Linked DNA regions of Homo sapiens: regions 1 and 3 are each linked to region 2. The links come from fine-mapping of genetic effects on gene expression. A gene starts in region 2. Each other region holds a variant in brackets. All regions are shown on one strand. Distances are from middle to middle. Region 1 overlaps ARAP2 (ArfGAP with RhoGAP domain, ankyrin repeat and PH domain 2). Region 2 holds the start of ARAP2 (ArfGAP with RhoGAP domain, ankyrin repeat and PH domain 2). Region 3 overlaps ARAP2 (ArfGAP with RhoGAP domain, ankyrin repeat and PH domain 2).

Region 1 (8,000 bases), 180 kb after region 2:
GCATCTGCTTGGCTTCTCGGGAAGCCTTAGGAAGCTTACAATTATAGCAGAACGCAAAGGGGAAGCAGGCACATCTTACATGGCTGGAGCAGAAGCAAGAGAGAGAGGGGGGAAAGGTGCTACACACTTTTAAAGGACCAGATCTCAACATAACTCACTCAGGAGAACAGCACAGAGGGGATGGTACTAAAACCACTCATGAAAACCCCACCCCCACGATTCAGTCACCTCCTATCAGGCCTCATCTCCAACACTGGACTGCATTTGAACATGAGATTTGGGTGGGGATATAGATGCAAACCATATCAGTAGTGTACTTGAAATTTCAGCATTATGTATGTTATTACTTGGCCCTTAAATTCTGTGTCTAAGAGAGTCCCAAAGTTTTTATGCTGATGGTTGAAAGACGATGAGAACTGTCACTCTGATATATAAAACCTCTCTATATTTATCCTTAATTTTTCCCAAGTAATAGATGCCGAGTGAAACTTTTTAACAAGATTAAAGTTTGTTTATAAACCCTGTCTTGTTTTTTTTTTACTTCATTTGCGATAAAATACATATATCATGGAATTTTCTACTTTATTTAAAAATACATACAATTCAGTGGCATTGGTTGTATTTACATTGTTCAACCATCACTATTTTTCTTAGTATTTTAACATATTCTAATGAAACTTTGGAATTAAGCTAGATATTAAACATTTCTTCCTATAAATTTCAGAGTAGGAAAAATGTATATAGCTTAAGATGTATAATCAGAATCTTACCAGAAAATTCCAAATTTCAAAATTATTTGTACATTATATTCATGAAAATATTTTTATTCCACTTGAATTTTCTGTTATAAATTTATGTTTGGATCTACTGAGATTAAGAAAAATAGAACAGTGTTGTATACTGGAAACTGTTTAAACTTTTCTTCATTTACTCATTCAAAAATATTTATTGATCATTTCCTATGTGTGTACAAGGCTCACACTTCAGTGAACTAATTAAACAAAAGGAAAAAAAAAATAGAAACCTTGCTAGACATATCTAAGCAGGAGTGAGTTAGAAGAGGCAAGTATGAAGTGAGATTCAATTTGAATAACTAACCCAAAAGACACCTTCGAAGTGGTATGTTGAATGCATGTTAAAATGAATTTCCATGGATTGCATTTTACAGATGTTCCTCAACTTATGATGGGGTTACATACCAATAAACTCACCATAAGGTGAACATACATAAAATAAAAAAGGCGTTAAATACACCTAACCTATGGAATGTTGTAGCTTAGCCTAGCCTAGCTTAAACGTGCTCAGAACATTTATATTAGCCTACAGCGGGGCAGAATCATCTGGCAACACAGCACGCCATATCAGTTTTTCACCCTCATGAGTGCATGGCTGACTGGAAGCTGCAGCTCATTGCCACTGCCCATCATCACGAGAGAGTGTCCTACCGCGCATCACTAACCGGGGAAAAGATCGAAATTCAGAATTTGAAGTATGCTTTCTACTTCATGCATATTTGTTTTTCACCACTGTAAAGTCAAAAAATCGTATTGAGGCATTGTAAGCCAGGGACTGTCTGTAGTTGATTTTGTAGCTCTAAGATTAGTATATAAATTCAGACATGCCACTTGTATCGAAGTAAAGTTAGGACCTAAGTCATAGAAATGAGATCTTTTATAGGAAGCATCAACTTTTATGTGGATTGCACTTTCTAAACCTAAATTGTGCCAAATCTTGCTTCCCTGTGAGACATTTAATTTTATTTTTAGAGTGCAAGAGCAGAACTTGAAAGGCTGCGGCTCAGTGAAAAGTGTGATAAAGAGTCCGTGGACTCTAGCTTAAAGGAGAGAGCTTCCATGGTGGCCCACTGCCTGGAGCACAAGGACGATAAACTTCGAAATCGACCCCGAAAACATCGGAGTTTCAACTGCCTGGAGGACACAGAGCCTGAAGCCCCACTTGGGCAACCAAAAGGCCATAAAGGCCTAAAGACATTGAGGAAGACTGAGGACAGGAATAGCAAAGCTACTTTGGACTCTGATCATAAGTTACCATCAAGGGTAATTGAAGAACTTAATGTGGTTCTACAACGGTCAAGAACCCTTCCAAAAGAATTACAGGATGAGCAGATTTTGAAGTAGGAAATAAAATGAATTGCTCCCCAGATTATTTTTTTAATATTGTATGCAATCTTTATGTGTAACTCCAAAACTGAACTATAAGATAATTCATAAGAATTTGCCTATTGATAGGCAAATTTGTCTATGCTTAGGCATTTAAGGAGCATTTAAAAATATGTATATATGTGACTGAATGTAAGATTAACTTTATTTTGGTCTGAACAAACCTTGTAAAGTTCCATTGTATTAACGTGTGTAAGAAGACATTGGGTTACTTAGGTGGTCAGTCCTTTTAAAGTAGTTGTCTGTTAAGTGGTATAATTTATGAGCAGAAATCTCAAACTGTACTGTATTGTATAAAATGCTGTGTTTAAATGAAGCCTAAGAAACTATCTGTAACATATTTTGCACTTTGAGAAACCTTGTATATTAAATTACCATATGTTTTTAGGTTTACAGAAGTTCTACCTTAGGGAAAAGAAAGGGAAGTAAATTGAAAAAGGGGGGAGAATTTATTGTAGTGGCTGCCTAAAAACCACTGGAGTTTTTAAAAGAAGCAAGGAGTTAAATGTCCTGCAAAACAAGGAAGTGAGCTAAGATTCATTCTAGTTCACTAATGACCAGAACTTGTCAATGAGAAACCACTTGTTAAGAAAAAGTCCAGTGTTTATTTCTCAAGAGTAATATTCGGCCAACAGATGTAAATAATAGCACTAGCCACTCTTATTAATATTTATAGTGTTAGAAAACCAGCCACATTACAGATTCACTACGTTTGAGCTCATTGTTGGTGGCTGCTAAGAGGAAACTTACACTGCATTGGAGAGGTTGTGTACACAGGACCTGGCCTGGATGCTGATTGCACTGTCATTGTATGCAAGCATTTTGTCTTTTTTCAGAATTTCTGACTATACTTTTGGTACGAACAAAATTCATCACCACAGGGTCCTGTTGTTTTGTTTGATTTTTAGATTTTTT[T/A]AAATTATTATTAAGGTTGTAATGTTTTTCTCCGAGTTGTCAGAAATAACTGGAAGAATACAATATATGGCCATTATGGAGCCAGGGGCTAGTTGGTGGTTTACTATACATTTGGGGGCTACCTGGTCACATTTAATCTAGGTTTTTTTTTCTTTTTTTAAGTAAAGGTGTGGTCTCTTCCCTGTACTTATGAATAAGGACAAAGCCCTATTTTTGTTTCCACATAAAGATCAGCTACTGAATTGGTGAATTTCCTGACAGACAATGCTATCTAACCATAGTTCATGTTAGGGGAAGCATTTTTCCATCAGTTTCTTTAAAATTGGATTGTCTGGTGAGTTTTGATATTAAACATTATGTAGCTAAGTTTTTTTTTTTTAGCATTTCTTTTTTATTTTTCAATCTATATTCACAGGCCCATACTTCAGTCAGTCCAATCATAGTACAGTGATGTGGTGGTAGATGCTATGAATTTCTTCATTGTAAAATACGGATCATTTGTATTTTGGGGTGATAAAATAGTTCACCATGGGTATGAGATATTTATTCTTTAAATCAAAGTAAATTAGAATTTTTAAAAAGCACAAAACTGCAGGACAGTTTATGAAATAGGTGGCACTATTAGGGAATCTTCCTTTAAAGCAAGAAATCATGTTATTTAGAAAGAAAAACTAATCTTAAACATACTATTTCTAATAAATATTTATATTTTTATGAAATAAAGAGGTATGTGGAAATTAATATTTGGTGATGTTGGACAGTGGAAAAGTATCTAGAGTTTTTACCTGCCTTATCTGAATTCTTCTTGAAACTTGAGCTTAAACTCTAATAGCTGTTTCCCTTTCTATTCTGAACAACTGTCTCCATTTTTCAAGTGTGAGAGATAAGGGCTAATGATGACATCTCATTTATTTTGAGTAAACATTAAAATTGTTTTACAAGTCTACTTGAATGTGACTTTATTATTTTCAGAAGTTGAAGGTTGTTATTGTGAAATAGATCAAATAGATTAGCTTTCTTTTCTTTTTAAAAAAATTTGAATTTAATATATACTTCAAACTGGCTGTATTGTTTTTCCAAACAGGTCACTGTAAGTAGCTTTATTTATTTAAAGACCCACTTGCTGAGAACCAGGCACAATTACAGGCTCTGTGGCCTGTATTGACGAGAAGCTGCTGACCAGCCACATCCCTACAAGATGCATAGTACCACCCCTGGTTTATAGGCATCTCTGCCAGCCTTGCCACACCATGAGAAGGCCAAGGGACTGGCACAAGTGTCTGGCACCTCAGCAGTGCCACTTGGTCATTCATGAGCAGTCCCTCATGTTCAGGAACAGTGCCTGTCACCCAGGCCACTTCAGCTGCATCCACTGTAGGAAGGAGCTGACTGGTGAGGCCCATGAGCTGAAGGGTGAACTCTACTGCCTGCCCTGCATTGACAAGATGCTGTCCCCATTTCTAGGGACTGCAGCCAGCCCATCAAAGGCCACATAGTGAATACACTGGGCAAAGAGTGGTGGCATGCAGAGCTCTTTTCCCTGAGTGTGAGAAGCCATTCCTGGGGCCCTGGCACTATGAGAAGAAGGGCCTGGCCTACTTTGAGATCCACTACAGCCAGCTCTTTGGGACATCTGCTGTAGCTGCAGCCATGAGGTCAAGGGTGACATGGTGTTGGCCCTCAACAAGGCCTGATGTGTGTGAACTGCTTCTCCCGCTCCACCTGCAAGAGCAGGCTCACTCTGAAGATCAAGTTTGTGGAGTTTGACATGAAGCCCGTGTGTAAGAACTTCCCACTGGAACTGAAGAAGAGGCTGAAGAAGTCATTGGAGCTCACGTCTCGCTAGGCCTAGCCCAAGTCTGGGGACCTCAACTCTGAAGGCTCTCTTGCCTGGCCCTTCTCTCCCTCCCTTCCTTCTCCCAGAGGACCTCTGCCTTCTCCCTCTCCAGCTCACTGCCTTCTCACAGCCACCTCCCACTTCTATTGTCTGTTCTTGGACTCCTCATCTCCCTTTACCTGCTTCTTGTCCTCCCCTTGTCTCCTTTCTCATCATCTCCACCCTTTCTATTCTCTTATCTCTGCCTTCCCCAATGTCTTTTCTCTCCTTTATGGTGGCTTCTCTCTTTCCTTCTGTGCAGAGGCAGTGACCCAAGAGGTGGGGAGCCTGTGAAAGGCCTGGGCCCATGCCCTGTGACTGCATCTACCTGGGTCCATGGACTTCAGCCTGCAGAACTCCAGGGATAGCAAATCAGGGTCTGGGGTCACCAGAGCTCCTATCCTGACCTGTCCCTCCCCACAGGGAACCAGGTTGCACATATTCCTGTGGGACCCTCCACCTCAGAGTACACCCACAGCCAGAGCAGCCCACCTGAGCTGCAGGACCAGGGCCACCCTTCAATCTCTCACCATTCATTTAACCAAGTAGTATCCCTGTGCCCAAACTGGGCCAGCAAGTCCTGCCACCCCATTCACTACCTGCAGGGACAGGAGCCCACTTCCATCAAGAGGACTTTCTGAAATCCAACCTTGGCCCCTGCCTCTGGCTAGGCCACTTGGTTCTCCCCTCCCCCAGCCCAGAACCTGTGTTGAGACTTTGGGTGTGGCTGGGAATAGGAGGTGGTAGGGTCAGAGGTGGCTTATTTCCACCTCTAAGGAGGAGAATTCCTCCACAACCAGTGCAGACCTGAGGTTGGGACTCAGGCTTGCATAATGAAGGCTTAGTCACAGGAAAAAAAAAAAAAAAGAAAGAAAAAAACAAAAAAGCAAAGCACTCAAAGTGCTCAAAGGCACTCTCAATTTTATTTCTGTAGCCCTAAAATTAATTATTAGACATGGTTTTTAAATATTTGATTTCTAAAGAAATCATTACCTGATGATTCATCAAAGTGTCACTGAGAACTCAAAATCAAACAAAAATAATTGAAGCAAAAATATGACTTATGAACGTAACTATATTAGCTGCTGAATTGCATAATTTTTAATTCAAAAATATAATGCAAAAGCAATTTTGTAAATGCATTAAATGTATTTGAACAGGTTGTAGCATGCAGATATTTGCATCTTTTTAAAGTTTTAATAATCACTTTAGGAAGAAGATTAAAACTTTCACCATCTTAACAAAATTTGCATGAAGACTTACATATTCTTCCTTACTCAAATGAACTTGTAACCAACCCCAAACTCATTTTGCTTGCCTCACAACAGCCAGTAAGTTAAGGAGGTGGAACAAGGAACAAGGAAGGCAACTTTATTTTGGAAAGCCAGCAAACCAAGAAGATGGCCAACTAGTGACCTAAAGTACCATTTTAAGTCGGTACAAATTTCAAGCTGTTTTTATGTTTAGGGTAGCAGGAAGAGGAAAGGGTTGGGATCAAGATGTGCGCCACAACCGCAGAAATTTGGATACTAGTCAGAGTTTGAGGCAGCTGGAGCTGCTTCGTCCATGGTCAGGTCACAATGCTTCTGCAAATCTCTTTTTTTTTTTTTTCTTTTTTTAAATTTTAAGTTCTAGGGTACATGTGCACAACGTGCAAGTTTGTTACATAGGTATACGTGTGTCATGTTGGTTTGCTGCACCCATTAACTTGTCATTTACATTAGGTATTTCTCCTAATGCTATCCCTCCCCCAACCCCCCACCTCCTGACAGGCCCCAGTGTGTGATGTTCCCAGCCCTGTGTTCAAGTGTTCTCATTGTTCAATTCCCACCTGTGAGTGAGAACATGCGGTGTTTGCTTCTGCAAATCTTTAACAAAACATAGCTGTTTACATACTTTTCCTTTAATCACAGAGTTAGTTAAGAAAACTACATGACTGTTTTCTTTGAATTTTTTCTCAGTGCTCTAAAATTAGCCTGTGAGCAGGAATAGGTAAAGACCCCTTTAACAAAAAATGGAGTTAGTTATGTTAGTTTTTCTACTGTTTCACTGTTACCAATTAGTTAAGGCAGAATTAGTTGTAAAATGTGACCATTTTTCTGTCATGTGTACAATCATCACATTTAATTTCTAATGATCAGGAAATGCAAAGCACAGAAATGAATCAGGTAATTAAAGTTTATGTTTTTAAGTTGTATAATTATTTTAACATTTTTTATTTAAAATATTACAAATTACATTGTATTACCCCTTTTCTGCCACAGCCACTATATGTTGAATATAAAAGTTTTGATAATTGAGATACCTCTGCAGATTTAACCCTTTTTATGAGTTAAAGTTCAGAGCCCAAATGTCCTCATCTGAGAAGTAGGAATGTTAACTTGTTGACTTTTTTCAACAACTGTTTTATACACACACACACACACACACACACACACACTCTCACACAAATTACGAGCCAGGTATATGAAATAGATACATATATAGCAGCATAGTAGAGATACAATAAATGTTAGTTATTAATGTATTAGTCCTCCTAGCTCTCATTTGATCTTAGTTGACCCTAATGGTTTTCAAAACCGCTTCTAGCAGGCAGATCAAGACGGTGTAATAGAAGGCTCTTCCAACTGTCCTTCACTAAAGGACACCAACCTAATAACTATCTACACAGAAAACAAACTTCATATGAACCAAAACTCAGATGAGCACTCACAGTACCTGGTTTTAACTTCTTATCACTGAAGGAGGCACTGAAGGGGTAGAAAATACGGTCTTGAATCAACACCATTCCTCCCCAACCCCCTAGCAGCAGCAACATGGTGCATTGAGGAAACTTTTTAGGACAACGGGCTGGGCAAAAATTTCTTGAGTAATATCCCCATAAGCACAGGCAACCAAAGCAAAAATGGACAAATGGGATCACATCAGGTTAAAAACTTCTGCATAGCAAAGAGAACAACCAGCAAAGTGAAGAGACAATCCACAGAATGGCAAAAAATATTTGCAAACTATCCAACTGTCAAGGGATT
Region 2 (8,356 bases):
CAAGGTAGAGCATATGTTAACTATCTAGTTTTAGCCATTCTACAATGTAAACATATTCAAAACATGTTGTCCATTATAAATATATACATTTTTGTCAATTAAAACTTTAAAAAAGAATTTACCTTTTTCCAGGCCAAAAAGAAAGCTTGTATCTAAAGCAGAGAATAAGCTACTGAACAAATAAATATAAGAGGATGTGATGAAAAACGTCTTAGCCAAAGCTCCCCCAGAAAATACAGCCTGAGGCAAAAACCTATATGTGAACTCTTTACTGGGGAGTGGATCCCTGGGAGCAGGGCTGAAGGATAGGGCTGAGATGGTATACAGAAAAGCAACAAAAAATATATATCAGAAATATGCCTGTAGTGGCCAGGTTCGGTGGCTCATGCCTGTAATCCAGCACTTTGGGAGGTCCAGGTGGGCGAATCACTTGAGGCCAGGGGTTTGAGACCAGCTTGGTCAACATGGAGAAACCCCGTCTCTACTAAAAATACAAAATTAGCCAGGCATGGCAGTGCATACCTGTAATCCCAGCTACTCAGGAGGCTGAGGCAGGAGAATCACTTGAATCCAGGAGGTGAAGGTTGCAGAGAGCCGAGATTGCACTACTACATTCCAGCCTGGGTGACAGAGTGATGAGACTATGTCTCAAAAAAAAAAAAAAAGGAAAAAAGAAAAAAATCAGCCCATAGTGATGAAGTCGTTGAATGTTAAAATTTGAAAATGTGAATTAAATATTTCATAAAATATAAGTGGAAATAACAGTATAGTTTAAAATATAATTTTACTTCTATAGATATTCATCTAAATTGATGAATTAAATAAGTAGACATTTGCTTATTTTATCTATATACCTAATTTTCATATTTGGCAAAAGCAATACTGGATTTTCTTTTAGAAAAAAAAAAAGGAAAGATTATTTTAAATCCTGTTGTGTACATATTTCCGAGTATCAGAGATTTTGAAAGTCTTGAGAAGGAGGTAGGATTTGAATCAAATCTTGAAGAATAATTTGAGAAGATAAACTAAAAGTAAATGCATTGAGGGGTTACTATTTTTTTAGGTGCTGTAGATATATAATCATATTAAATTCTCATAGGTATTATTATTCTCAGTTTACATATGGGGAAACTGAGGCTCAGGTAAGTTAATGAATTTGCTTAAAAAAATGCCGCAACCTATACTGGTTCCATCTTGAATGCAGCCTTTTCCAAGCCTTCTACTTTCTTCAAGACACAATACAGTGCAGAATAGATCCTGGAGAAGACTGGGTTGGAATTCTCCCTCCCGTACAGTCCTAATTGTTTGATTTGTGTAAAGCATTCAATTTTTCTGTCTCTTAAGTTTTCTTATAAAGGAGATAACATCTCTCCAAGGAACTGCTGAGATACTTAAATGAGCTCTTGTAATTAAAATGCCTGGAACAGCAATTGGCACACAGTGCTCAATGGGTATTAGCCATCATGTTGTAAGAAAAAGTAGAAGGAGGAAAAGGAGGGAGAGAGGAGAGAGTGAGGAGGAGGAGGAGAGGAGGAAGATTTTCACTCTCTCAAATTGTCTCCTCGACAAGTAAAGCAACAAGAGATCACAATAGTAAATACATAGATAGGCACAGACACATCTTTACCTGCTTTTTTACTAAAAATCTGGGAAAAATGTGCAGGAGCTCGTCATTGTGGAATCATTTCAGCCTAGATGAAAATTACTGGGAATATATGTTCCAATGGTCTTGAGATTAAACATATTTTCTTACCTTTTTTTTTTTTTTTTTTGGAGGGGAGGGGATGGAGTTTCAGTCTCATTGTCCAGGCTGGAGTCTGGAGTGCAATGGTGCAATCTCGGCTCACTGCAACCTCCACCTCCCAGGTTCAAGCGATTCTCCTGCCTCAGCCTCCTGAGTAGCTGGGATTACAGGCATGCACCACCATGTCCAGCTAATTTTTTTGTATTTTTAGTAGAGATGGGGTTTCGCCATGTTGGCCAGGCTGGTCTCGAACTCCAGACCTCAGGTTATCTGCCCGCCTCTGCCTCCCAAAGTGCTGAGATTACAGGCCTGAGCCACTGTGCCTGGCCCATACCTTAATCCTTGTAAAGCCAATTTCCCTGTGTACTTTGCTCTCTGAATACCTCACTGTGAAGGTTGCAAAATAAAAAATTTATACCCTAAGAATATAGCCTAAATGTATTCAATGTATTCACTATTTACTACTTAACCTCTTTAAGTTTCAATTAAACCTATATTTATAAAATTGAAAAAAGAATTTTAACTCACACACGTTGTGTATACACAGCATATATGTTAGGTATTTGACTAGAGTCTGGTGACTATCGATCAATTAATAAAAGATAGCTTTTGCCGTATTTCCTCAGACATTTTTATTTTCCTCCATATATTAAGATTCATTAAACCAGAATACATCTTATAACTAATGTATACATTCAATAAGTGAGCATTGTTCTTCTTTATTTCCCAGGGCTATTATGAAGTCATTGTTGTACCTTGTAGCATTTACCTTTATTTCCCCTCAGAAAACATAAATCCAGAGATTGCATTGTATTTGCTAAACACTGTATTTTCAAAATGCCAAACAGTGATTAATAATTTTTAAAGAATAAATGACTGAATAATAATCAAAGAACTAAGATATTTTTGCGAAGAGGGAGAGAGACAATTTCTCAATTAGTTTATAAAATCTACCAAGCGAAGTAACTTGAGGACAAAGCAATGATTGAACCTCCCACACATAAGATAACTGATCTAATAATTTTTATTTATAACCCACCTTGTTTAGAGAAGGACCGAAGATGGCTTACAATGATAAAAATAGAGCCAGGCATGGTGGCTCACGCCTGTAATCTCAGCACTTCTGGAGGCCAACGCAGGCGAATCACTTGAGGCCATGAGTTTCAGACCACCCTGGCCAACATGGTGAAACCCTGCCTCTACTAAAAACACGAAAATTAGCTAGGCGTGGTGGTGCATGCCTGTAATCCCAGCTACTCAGGAGGCTGAGGCGGGAGAATGGCTTGAACCCAGGAGGCGGAGGCTGCAGTGAGCTGAGATCGCGCCACTGCTCTCCACGCTCCAGCCTGGGCGATACAGCGGGGCTCAGTCGAAAACAAAAACAAAAACAAAAAAGAGAGAGATAAAAAAAAAGAGAGAAGTATGTGAGAATTTGGAGAGGGAAAAGGGAAAAAGAACAAAAGAAACACACACACACAGAGAATGAAGCCAGAAAAGAGCCACATAAATAAAATTCCTCCTATAAATGCTATAGGAATCCAGAGAAAAAGTTCCCGTGGTTTGGAAAATGTCAATAAAACTTTCCTGGTGGAAATGAGGTCGGCTATGAGGTATTAAGTTCAAAAGGAACTGGATATTTGGTGTCTCTAGTAAGACAGAGCTGCTTCAGAGTCTCCCCAGGGAAAGACGGTGCTTTGGGCAGGTAGTTAGTGTGGGTGAAGGTGATGACTGAAGAATCCTAAGGGCCCAGGCTTGTGGGAAGCCTCTCTCTTTCCGCACTTCACCAATTATCTCATTTTCATAAGGTCTGCGCTTTCCTTAATTGCTTCACTTCCATCAACAGGAACAGGGGAAAGATAAATACATTTCACCTTTTAATGAAGAGAATTTCAGGTAGTCTGTGGGAGATGTTTATAAAAAAAAAAAAAAAAGCTGGTAGGGGGCAGTGTCTCACGCCTGTAATCCCAGCACTTTGGGAGGCCGAGGCAGGTGGATCACTTGAGGTCAGGAGTTTGAGACCAGCCTGGGCAACAAGGCGAAACTCCGTCTATACCAAAAATACAAAAAAAATTACCTTGGCTGATGGTGCGCGCCTGTAATCCCAGCTACCTGGGAGGCTGACGTGGGAGGATAGCTTGGACCCAGAGGCGGAGGCGCAATGAGCTGAGATTGCCTCACTACACTCCAGCCTGGGTGACAAAGTGAGACCCTGTCTAAAAAAAAAAAAAAAAAGTAGTTGGTCTGTGAACTCACTTGCAAATAACTGGATTTTACGGACGCTTAGATATTTGGAGGTCCACAAGGGTTCTTTGGGATCCCCTATTTTCCTTCGCTGCCTCCTTTGTCAGAGTCCAACTCAAAGGGGAAATGCCCCTCTGGGATCTAACCGCCACAGGTGCAAGAAGGAGCAAATTTACATAGAAGCAGCCTGGGGAAAATAGTGCCCTAGATGAGTCTTCAGTTTGGGAAACGCTGAGCTAACACTTTAAGTACTTGGAAGAGTAATACTAATAATCAGTCGTGGCGAGGTTCCGCCCATTTGACATTCAACCCCCCATGAGTGCGCACAGACAAACCCACTGGCCAGGAGGAGCCAACACAAGGTCCTGGGCATCTCCGTCCCGGGAAGGTGGGTAATGCCCCTGTCGCTCTGGGCTCCAGGGCGCGCCCCCGCAGCTTCCCCAGCGGGGTCTGACGCCTCCGGGCCGAGGTGCGCCAGGTGGCGAGGGTGCCAGGCGCGGCCAAGTCGCGGCGGTCTGAGTCAGTCACCCAACTATGCTGCGGAACCAGGGAGGCCGGCTGGGCCGCCCCCGCCGTTGAGCTCCGGCTTCCCCCGCGCGGGGCGCCTGCTCCCCGCCCCCGCGGGCGGAGAGGAAGCGGCGGCCGAGGCGAGGCGCGGGAGCACCTGAGCAAGGCGCGGGCGCCGGGCTCGGCGTTTCCGGAGCTGAGCGCGGGTCCGCGGCCCGCGCTCCCCGCCTCCAGGTGCGGCGGCCGCGACACGCCGGCCCCACTAACAGCGCCGCCCGCGCGGCCGCCGCCAGGCAGCAGAGGCGACTGCGGACAGCCGGCGGGGACCGGGAAAGAGGAGGCCTGGCGCCTCCGGCAGAGGGGCGAGGACCGAGCGCCCAAGGCTGGGAGAGACGCCGGCGCTGAGCTTCCCAGCGCCGCCTCACCTCGCTTTTCGAACTCCGCGACCCGAGCGCAAGGCGAGTACCCGGGGCCTCGGGAAGGCTGGGCCGGGATGGCCCACGCGGGGGTGGGAGGACCCTGTCTGGAGGGGCTGGGGCTTTTCGACACTTCACCGGGTAAATTTCCTCAGCGCAAAGTGCTCGGCTCTGGTGTCCGCCCCTTGGATTTCGCTCCCGCGTGTGGGCGTCTGAAAGGAAACCAGAAGCCGGTAAGTGATCCAAGAACTCCACTTCTGGGATTTGACCCGGGAGGGTGAGGATCCGGATAGACAGCTGGACACTCCCTCCATTCCTCTCCCCTACCTTTAAATAAGAAGAAGCTGTAGTGAGTTTCAGGCACCAAGTTATTTACTCGGTAGAGATCATGAATTTGCCCGGGTGTCTGTGCTGCCCCGCACCCTGCTTGTTAACCACGTTAAGACGACTGGCCTGTTAATTAACTTTAATTACGATCATTTGGCTTCCACCTGCCTGAACCCGATACCTTACACGGGAACCTGTATGATGTGAGTTTACCAGATTGATCTTTCTTGTTTACTTTTGGAGACAGTTCTCTTGGGAGAAGTGGTGTCCATCCTATTTAATAAAGTAAGTTTTACTTTATCTAATTCTGGCTTGTTTTCTTAAACACCTCCTACCTTGAGGTGATCTGGAGTTATTTTGATTTGGGGAAAGGGTTCGTGGATTATATAGCCTTTGATAATTAGAGGAAAACACAAGAAAATAAGCTAATTTGTGTGGAATAATGACATCTTAGGGTGTTGTAAGTAGGTATCCTGATAGCAAATTCTTTTTTTTTTTTTTTTTTTTTTTGCAAGCTTGTCCTTGAAGTAGGCTGTTCAGTAGAATACAGCCTTCGGTTTAAAAAAAATCAAGAAGTGTATTGAAAATAAGCTATTTTTAAAAGTACATTTAATAGGATGTCATTGTTATTACTCATAATAGTATTGTACTTACAAGCTCAGTATTGATTTATCTGCACTTAAGCACTCTACACCCCCACAGGCCCATGGAACTTTGCCCGTAAGTAATTGGAAGATAAAAAGCAAGCTAACTTTTTTTAAGGAAAAAAAGAGAAATACCTTTAAACTCTTTTTTTTTTAACTCTTATTTATGACTTCCATACACTTACAGGAGAAATATTGAGAGAAAATACTCATGACATTTTTTGTCCAACAACGTTTAAAGAAGAAAAAAAAGTGGGTCATGGAACTAGGCTAGGGTTAAGTGCAAATATCTTCCTGGCTTCTTTCTAAACATATTTAACACATACACATTTAAGGTGGTTCCTAACACGAAGAGGGTTTTATATAGATTTGTCAGTACTCAAAGATTTATTTGAATTAAAATGTACCTAGAGGGTAAGTGAGAGAGCTTGTTAAAACGTATTTATATGGGTGTGTGCTTGTGTTTGTATTTTTTCCTTCGTCTGTAAACCTGTCAGATTTTATGTGGCTTGTCTGTAAAAGGAGAAGCTGATGGTACGTTTAAAAACAAATTCTTGTTTTTCTAATATCACTGCAAGCTCCTTGCAGTGTAAGGCTCATGGATATGCAATAATATCAGATCCAACTATTCTTGGATACTGTGGAGAAGTATAGAACTCAGATTATAATGAATTACAGTTTTCTTAAGAACTTTAACGCATTGAAACTATGAAGTTTTAAAGTCTACGTAGAATTCTGGGTTATAGACTTCATGATATATGAGAAGTTTTTTGTTGTTGTTGTTGTTTCGTTTTGTTACTTTCTAACCCACCTCCCTGCAACTGTGAGAAAGTTTGGTGAAAGTGACTATAAAAATGCTAAGTATAAATAATAGTCATTGCTTTAATAGTTTTCTTTTAGCATACATTTCCACCTGTCCTCATTTATTTATTGATACATTTCTTGGATACAATCTTTGCACATGCTACATTGTAAGAGTTTTGGGAATTCTTGGTGAAATATTAATTAGGTAGAGAACTTCTTAATAATCTGGGAAATATGTCTTAGCTTTGACCACATATGGTGGATGTGAGATTAGAGGCTATGAGACGCTGTCTTAATCTTTTCTGCAAAGTTCTGGACCTTGTAATTTATCATTTTAGTTATTACTTGTAAGTATTGGCCAGATTAAATATATAATGGTAGTTAAACCATTTTGCTCACTTGTTTCTTCTTTAAATGAAGCAGTACTTAATGGTATTCTCCTCACGTGATCTTTTCTAGTTAGAAAGTTGTCCTGTGAAATTTTGTTTCAGTTTCTGTTCAGCACAAGCTTACTTATTTACCCATGCTGCAGAGAAAACAAAGGAGGCCTGATTTGGGTTGAAGCAGTGGTTTAGGTGGCAGATTTGAGATTTTTTAGAGTTCCTGAGAACTCATGAAGGATGATGGGGCCACTTCTCCATGTATTTAAAACAATACTAAAATATAAAACCATGTGGAAATTAGGGTCATAAAATTGGATTTTTCTCACCATTACAATTTAAGTGTTTTTTTTGGAATATATCAAATTCTTTGCAAAAAGTTGTTTTTTTGTGGTGTCTTTGGTATTGTTTATTGGCACTTACTGAGTAATAATGAACTGATTGTTCATATACGTGCCATTTACCTTTTCTTATAGTCATGTCTCATCTACCCTTTTAGATTGTAAACTCTTGGAGGGAAGACTGTATCTTCACTTTCTTTGTAGCCCTTAGCACTGTTGTCAAATGAGACAGTAGAGGCTGTTATCTTGAACACCAAATATCTCCCTCTCTTATCTTGGAGCGAGTAGTGTTGCTTAATATATATTGAATGAATACATGTTAAAAAATGGTCCAGTAAGGTAGGAGACGTTTTCTGAAATGCCCTCTTTTTATAAGAAAAAGAAACTTTGACAATTGCTAAACCAATAGGAATAAACCCTCAAACTCAGTTGGAAAAGAGGTCAGAGTACTATTTATAAATGCAAAGAGAGGAAACACAGTAGGCTATTCTGAAACATCTGGTTGTTTGTCTAAAAATATGACTTACATTCAGAGAAATGGTGGAGTATATACACTTATACAAAAGTTTTAAAATTCTGCTTTTGTAGAAACTCTAGAAGAATAAATTATTCTCTGATATCCCAAGAATTATGGCTTTACCTTAGGGATCTCTCTACATTAGAATTTTTAAAAATTCTCAAATCTTAGTGAATTAACTTAAAATCTGGATGGACAGCTTGAAAGGAAAAGACTTACAGAAGCTAAGGAGATTATCAAGCATTTAACTATTGCGATATTATCCAGAACACCTAAACCTAGGTACCTCCTATGCTACTAATATGTTCTTATACTAAGTAAAGGAATTTGTACTTGTGGCCTTCACTGGATGGAAATTGTTTTTAAGTTTTAGGTTTTTTTATTGTGTTTTTCAGATTGTGCTATAAGTAAAATAATCAAAACATAGCTTAGACA
Region 3 (8,000 bases), 170 kb after region 2:
TTTAGCATTCACCTCTAGCTAAGTCCAACACATTGAATCACCACTTGTGGAAGTCTATGCATTCCCACCATTAAATCTCATCTCCTTAACATCTAATCCTGTTTTCTGTCTTGTAAAATGTATTATTTTTAATTTATGTGTGTTTTTTTTTCTATGTGATGCAGCTGGGGATTGACCGCATATTCTGAGAAACATCACTGGTAAGTTAACAGCTGACAACTTTTGGACATAATATATTGGTGACAATTTCAGGAAAAGAATAATTTCAGTAATTGCAGATAGAACTACAGACGGAAAGTGTTTTGCCTAAGTGAAATTAGGGTTGTTTGTAAAGACTTTGAGCCTAAGAAGAGGAAAACAGATTTGTATCAGGGTTCAAGTCCCATGTATCCTATTTGGCAATGCCTCTGAAGTGAAACTACGCCTGATTTCTTCCATAGTTATTATGAGTGTGGAATTCAGCTTTTATGAGATAAGTAGGTGATAGTTTTAAAACAGAATAAGAACTAGCTAAAATCAGATTTAAGAAAAACATATATCCCGCTCTCAACCCTATTTCTATATATGTACTTTTTGCCATATACTGTTACCAGTATCCATCAGTATTTCTAGAGATTGTACTAGATGTTTCCTTCTCTTCACCTCCCTGTGTCTAATCGGTCACTGAGCCACACGAGATCTGCCTCTTCCTTGTGCCCCTCCTCCACCTACACCTCTCTACCCTGAGGGCCTGGCCTTCATTGATCTGCCTGGATTATTCCAGGAGTCCTAAGTGCTCTTCAGGCCTCTTCTTTGCTTTTGTTTTGTCGTACATTCTCCACCTCTCCACTGAGGAGTATTTTCTATGCTGTACCATGTTTCTCTCCTGCTTTAAAACTTCTGTGAATTCTTTCACCTATAGGATCAAGCACAGAATTGTTGCGTGGCATGCAAGGCTATATATGACTCCACCAACTTCATCTCCCACAGTTTTTCTTTTTCACTTAATGACAAAACAATCATCTATCTTTATTCACCACGCATTCCTTGCTGTTTCAGATCTGCATGTGTGATGTACATGGTCCCTCTACTAAACCTTTGTTCATACTTTTCACTTCTCCTTCCTGTCATACTTTCATTCTCCCCCTGATGACTCAACCAACTCAACTGTCAATGTTCTTTGAAATCATAGCTCAAATGCCCCAAAGCCTTATCTAATAGCTCTCACCTCTGATCATTATTTCTTCTTTGCACCTACAGTATTTTATAAACAAGGGTACGGAATTAAAATGATTTGTGGCAGGAATGGTTTGTGGCCTGGACATGGTAATAGGGAAAGACAATGTTTTCATGAGGTGCTGATGAAGAAAACACAGATTTTTTAGAAATTTCATTTTCAACATTTTTCAGGTAAATTATTTTGATAATACAGGAATGTAAAGAATACAATTACTTTGAAAAGCCCATTAGATCTTTCCAATATCAATTATAAAATTTTCCTCTTATAAAGAACAACCCTCTCCTCATCCCCAAGTCTGTGGTTTCTATGTTTGCACTCAGTTTTATTTTTGCTTTTTCTCACTGTGTTGTAATTTATTTGTCTATATGCTTAGCTCCCCTAATAGACTACAGGAGCCTTCAGGACAAGGTCTCTGTTTTAGTTAGTCTTTCAATAAAAGGTTACTTAATCACTGTTATTGGATATGCAGTGGTTTTTCATGTAGTTTCATTTTTTATGAATCTGTGGGTATTAGTGTTTACAATTACAATGATGGAGACTATGTCTCAGCCTTTTAAAAAGAAAGATCTGCTCTTATGAGGATGTGCACATATTTTTCTTCTCAGGCTCAGAATTTTAGTGGAATACAGTGTTTTACCATCAGGTACTTGAAAAGGCAAAATGAAATAAATCTTTCTGCCTTTCCGAAAAATATTGGTCATCATTTTGCAGCACTTACCAAAGGCTTCAGTTGTATTTTGTTTAAACCAATATATTTACACTATAACTTCGTATTGTACATTTAGCAGAAGACCAAAACAACTTGTACTGAAATGTTCCACTTTTGTGATTGCATTACGTCATTAATCAGGAGAGACCCAGAGATTTTTGATCACCAAATCACTCAGCAGATACACTAGAGAACAGTCAATTGTCTTTTTGAATGACATAGTTTATAAACCTCGTTTTGCAGGCACCTGTGTTGTGATAGTTCACGAACTCAGACGGAGTGGATGACCAGTATCTTTATTGCCCAGGTACGAGATTTGTTTGAACTATCCAGTAGAGTATAATAACTTTGTTTACAGGAAATGTTAGTGTGATGGTGATTTCTAAAGAATTTTTAATAAGCATTTTAAATGTATGTACAATTGGCATAAACTTTGATTCTCTCATTCTTAGTTTTTAAAATAGTATATTAAAGTTCAAATTTATTCATTACCTTTTGAAAGAGAGTTTATTCCATTAAAGCGTCTTTTCTGCCAGCCCCACAGCCTCCTTGGCTTAGGTGAGGTGTGTTGCTTTAAAATGGTCGTGTAAGAAAGAGGGACTTTTCTAAGCTGTCATCCTACCACAATCCCACATAGACCTTCATTTAGAAAAGTGTTCTATTTCCCTTCTTGTTCTCCCACTCTCTCCACCCCTGCCTTTCCAGAAACAAGGACAGGAACCTACTTTTCTTTAATAACTATTGTGTGCTAGATACTTCATAAGAATAACTCATGTATTCCTTGCAGCAAACCATACAAGATGTTTTTGGTTTTATAAAACAAATGTTTGGTTGTTTGCTCAGGACCATATATTAGTAGTTTAAACCCAGGGATGTCTGAGGCCAATGCTTATACTCAGTTCCGTATTTGTTTTCCTCCCTAGAGCAGGACTTACCCTTTTGAGGAACAGTTATATAGTCCCATTAATTGGACTGGTTTGTTTCCCAACCTTGTCTAGCTAAATTCCCAATAATGCTTCTCATGGAGCATTGAAATTCACTGGTAACGATTAAGTTGCCATTCTTTATTACTGAGGAGGTATTTTCCTGTTTCCCTTATAAGAAATAAGTTAGCTCACTCCAAAATCTAGTTCTTATTTGTTCTGAAAATAGTTTTCTCTGTTCATTTAATGTATTAACTTTTTCAGTGGTTAATAAACACAGCTCTTCTCAGCCTGTCTCTCTACCATTACTACCTGGAAAAACATGTGCACAAGAGACTGGCTGCTAACTTTTTAGAGGCTTTTCTTCTTCTTTTTGTAACTTATTAAAATTCAGATATTCAACTTTTTTTTTTTTTTTTTTTTTTTGAGACAGAGTCTTGCTCTGTTGCCCAGGCTGGAGTGCAGTGGCATGATCTCAGCCCACTGCAATCTCTGCCTCCTGGGTTCAAGTGATTCTCCTGTCTCAGCCTCCTGAGTATCTGGGATTACAGGCGTGCACCAC[C/T]GTGCCCAGCTAATTTTTGTATTTTTAGTAGAGATGGAGTTTCACCATGTTGGGCAGGTTGGTCTCGAACTTCTGACGTCAGGTGATCCGCCCACCTTGGCCTCCCAAAGTGCTAGGATTACAGGCATGAGCCACTGTGCTAGGCCACATCGAGTTCTACTTTAGGAAAAACAAAAGACTGGATTTGAAGTCTTTTGGTAAAGTTGGGACTATAGAGTCTAAAGCTGTTACAGTGTCATTTGTGGCACAACTAAACTGATGTTTTTGTTTTTATAATTGGAGTCAGTAGACTCTGCAGTTGAAATTTAAACAATGAATGCAGGAAGCAAAGCCTACTCTCACTACAAGGTTATTTCTTACTGTCTCATGTTTTAATCCTAGTCCTCGTCTCAAAGATTTAGCCTAATTATCTTTCCTCTGTTCTTTTTACTTCTTGGTATTATTCAGGTCCTCCCTTAAGATAAACACAGAAGCCTTCTTGGATTTAAGGATTTATGGTTCATCTCTGTAGGGAAACAGCAAAATAGCAAATATTTATATATATGTTAAAAGCGTAGACATACACACAAACACGTATGCGAATTAACAGTAAACACCCCCTATAATGAGCTCCTTTTGGTATTCAGAGTACTTTTGTAATCTCCATCCTTTCCACACCCCTGCCTCAGAAGTCATCTAGACTTCAGCTTAAATATCCCATTCTCAGAGAAACTTTTCCTGACCTTCAGATGACTTAGACCTTCAGGCTATCACCCTTAGCATCCCGTACTTCTCCACTGTGACACTAATTAGTAAAGAAAAAAATGTAATTAGCTATTTCATGTCTGCCTCTCTTACTAAAATGTAAACTCCATGAAAAGAAGGACTCTTCATCATATTTGACTTGTATGTCAAGTACATGTTTAGTTAGTATTTCTAAAATAGGAAATAGGGTAAGAAAATCAGTAATCAGATAAAATTTCAAATGGATATCCATGTGATAAAATAGGAGAATCATAAAATATGGCAGGTAAGGAGAGCATGTGACTGACATAAGGAAGGCACTAATTGAGGAAGGTTCTCAGGAAATGGCTTTCTGAGTAGGTGACAGGTGACCTGAGACCAGTCTGAAATGAGAGGGGTATCATGCAGGCTTCCAGGAAGGATCATTCAGGAATGGGGCCAGCAGGGTATGTCCTGAGACATCATCACTGTCTTGTTTTATTCTATAAACATCATGAAGGTAAGATATTAGAGATGAGGAAGGCTTGTGACAAATTATGTAGTTCCTGCTTAATAGTTTGAAACAAGGGAAGGATATAATCTAATTTTAATTGAAAAAAATTATTTTGTTCACTTCATTGAGTCTGCAGTGTAGAGGGTCAAAGATGCAAGTGGGATGAACAGCTATAGGAAAGAAGATGTCAACTCAGACTAGGGTGGTAATGAATATGGTAAGACAAATTAAGATTCAGGAATATTTTGAAGGTAGAGCCAATAAGGCTTTTGGAATTATTGCGAAGTGACTACGTTGTCTGTGGTATATACCCTAGAGTTCCTTGTCACATGCCAGGAAAATTTAGGACACAGACACACACGAGAAGTTTAGGAGCAGGAGGTTTAATAGGTAGAAGAGAAGAGAAAGAGAAACAGCTTCCTCTATAACAGGAAGAGGTCTCCAAGCAGAAAGTACCAGCTAGTGCAGAATGCGCAGTTTTATAGTCCAGTTTGAGGAGGTTGTGTCTGATTTACGAAGGGCTCACAGATTGTTTCGATCAGATATGGCGTTTACATAGTGTATGGGTAAGTCTGGTCACCCCCACCCTAATCTTCTTATGCAAATGGGCTTTCCAGTTGATTGACACCATCTTGTCCTCTCCTTACAATGCATTTGGCTGGCAGAGAAGGGAAGATGGAGCCACCATTTTGAAAATGTCTAGTCCTTAGTTCCTGCCAGCATTCACCCCTGCAAGCTCCTAGATTGCAGGCTGCTTTTTGTTAGAAGATGGCTTGGGACTGCTTTTCATTAAAAAGAAAAGCCTTACCAAGGACTCCCATGCCCTTGCTATCTGCTTAGTAATTCCTTCTTAACTCCTGTGTCAATTGGCTATTGCAATTTGAGAGGAAGAGTAGAAATCAGAAAAAATTCTAGTTTTTTGGCAACTGTCAGATGTAAGTGGGATCATCAGAGATGTAGAAGGAAATGGAGAGTTCTATTTTGGCCACATAAAATTTGAGATGCCTATTAGATACACAGATATGTATGCTGGGCAGCAGGTTGGATGTGTGGATCAAAAACTCAGGCACAGGTTTGGGGCTAAAATGTAAATTTGGGGGAAGTCAGCACTTAGATTATATTCAAAGCTATAGGATTAGATGAGATGCCTGGGGGAGAAGGTTTGAGGTGGAGAGGGAAGCATGGAGGTGGAGAGGGAAGCATGGAGGAGGGTTGGGGAGAGAGAGAGAATGGAGGAATAAGCCCTGGGACATTTCAAAATTTAAAGCGTAGGCAGAAGAAAAAAAAACAGCAAAAGCAGTGATAAGAAGTAAGAAAGGAGGAAAACCAGGTGATGGGTACAGAAAATTCTCTCAAGTAATTTCTTATGTAATTAAATGAGGTTGTGACTAGATAGAGGTGAAGGTAGGTTTGGGGGTTTTGATTTATCTTTAAGATGGGGGAGTGTGTACTTGCATACATTATATGAAGACAATCCAATCAGGAAGAAGAAATGGACAGAAGAGGAGAGATGTTATTAAACCAGCAGAGGCCCTGAACAGACATGAAATGATATGATCTAGTGCATGGTTATTCATTATTAAAAATCATCATACAGCAGAGACTGTGGCACATTTCTTCTCAAATTATTGACCACCTAAATTTATGACCCATTGAGCTGAGCAATTATAGATATGACTGGATAAAAGTTATTTGCAATCAGCAAATACTGATTGCAAGAAGTAAACTCACTTAGATGACTATAGATGCAAGGAGATTGGTACATTTCATGATGGGAGTATTTTCTTAAATGATCAGTAATAATTGTTGGATTGAATCAGTGAGATCACCACATGTGACGCAGGCAGGGTTTTTGAAGTGTAAGGGCAGAGGCAAAGGAGAGAAGTAATCTTCAGAGAGTGAGGAAACCAGTTGTCCCATGGTAGAACTTCAAGGCAGTGCTGAATGGTTTCTTAAAATTTAAGGTTAAATTTAAAGTGTGATGGATGTACAGAGTAATTTGTTTTTGTCCTCCATCAACTGGCAGGCACTCATGAAATAAGCTGAATTGTGTTTAATTAGGTTTGGGGCTTTGCCAGGCAAGTATGATAGAGAACGAAGGAGCAAGAAAATAAATAAGTAATCAGATAAAATTTGAACTTGAAGATATTTACAAGGAAGTGAGTTTACTGATTGACCATGAAATGAAAGCCAGGCAATGAGGGAAGTGGTAAAAAATGTTGTGAGAAGAGTGGTGGTGGATTGGAGGTCTCAAGGAGTGAAAAGAATAGTTAAAATGAATGAAACTAAATTTAGTTAGCTGGAAAGATAGGCAAAGGTTAGAAAATGGAAGGCAGAAATGGAGATGTTTAGGTGTGGTCTTTGGTTATAAAATGAAAGTTTGATCCTCACCTATATGATCCGTGCTGTATGACTTTTGAAGTCATTTACAAATAACTACAAATGTTAAATCAGAACACATCACTTGGATGTAAAGTAGAAAAAAATGCCTCTTAGTTCAATTCAAGGAGAGTTAGCTGGTATTCACAGTTGTATATTATTTCAGAAAAAGAGAAATATGGATTTGGGAACCGCATTTGCTCTTAGATTCTTCAAAATATATTTTAGCGTATGCACTACACATCAGTGATTTGAAAGTGTAAGGGTAATTCACAAAATTGCCTAATTCCCTCTCAGTCAGTTTTCTCCCAGGTTTATGTTTTGGGAACATCACAATTATATAATATGCTTTTTTTAACCATGTTTGGTACTGTGTCATAAAAATAATGTGAAGCTATAACTTTCCAATTGAAATACTGTATAACCTACCATTATAGATTTGCGGAACTAAGGTAAATGCTTCACTAACATTCAAGGGTAGATACGATGCACATTAAAGGATCTGCACTGTAAGATCATTGAGGAATAAATGAAAATTATATGTACATTGATAAACATACAGCTTGGCAGTTTGCCCCTTAGTTAAATTAGCTGTTATTATATGGTAGGTAGACAGTAAATATTTGTTTAAATGAGTTCTTTGCCATAAAGCAACACATTAAAATAAGAGCTGCAACCTAAGAACAATAATCTGTTGCTTAAGAACTGAGAGAAATAAAGAGTAGGCATTTAGCTATATAGTTTACTAAATGGTTTTCATTTCATTACAATATCTGTAAACTTTTCATTTTATACTCGGTATTCTGTGTTTACGTCATAGATTGTTGTTTGAAAATCAATATACTTTTTCCAAATTCTGGAAAGTTAATCTACCCTGGGGAGTACAAAATTCTTTAAAGAATTTTTTATATGTATATATCAGAGATGAATCACTCCAGAGCTTATATTTTTACCTGTGAACATTTATCCCCATCCAAATTAACCTTTCTCCA

Evidence for each region.
Region 1: its variant is fine-mapped to the expression of ARAP2 in whole blood (INTERVAL, PIP 0.95).
Region 3: its variant is fine-mapped to the expression of ARAP2 in whole blood (INTERVAL, PIP 0.95).

What each region holds. Positions count from the first base shown.
Region 1 is chr4:36,062,045-36,070,044 of GRCh38, reverse strand. ARAP2 (ArfGAP with RhoGAP domain, ankyrin repeat and PH domain 2) reads left to right here. Exons shown (of 33, transcript NM_015230.4): 33 at 1,767-4,041. The coding sequence ends at 2,138. It also overlaps the pseudogene LOC651644. Among named protein-coding and RNA genes, the nearest start is that of ARAP2, 180 kb to the left of the region's middle. The variant T/A (reference allele first, on the strand shown) is at 3,096.
Region 2 is chr4:36,240,773-36,249,128 of GRCh38, reverse strand. It overlaps ARAP2 (ArfGAP with RhoGAP domain, ankyrin repeat and PH domain 2), which reads left to right and starts at 4,615. Exons shown (of 33, transcript NM_015230.4): 1 at 4,615-4,950. LOC439933 (a long non-coding RNA gene) reads right to left here and starts at 5,013. Exons shown (of 5, transcript NR_122079.1): 1 at 4,918-5,013; 2 at 3,819-3,957; 3 at 523-647. RefSeq lists a silencer at 4,240-4,819.
Region 3 is chr4:36,074,451-36,082,450 of GRCh38, reverse strand. It overlaps ARAP2 (ArfGAP with RhoGAP domain, ankyrin repeat and PH domain 2), which reads left to right. Exons shown (of 33, transcript NM_015230.4): 30 at 165-200; 31 at 2,172-2,235. Among named protein-coding and RNA genes, the nearest start is that of ARAP2, 170 kb to the left of the region's middle. RefSeq lists an enhancer at 781-830. The variant C/T (reference allele first, on the strand shown) is at 3,414.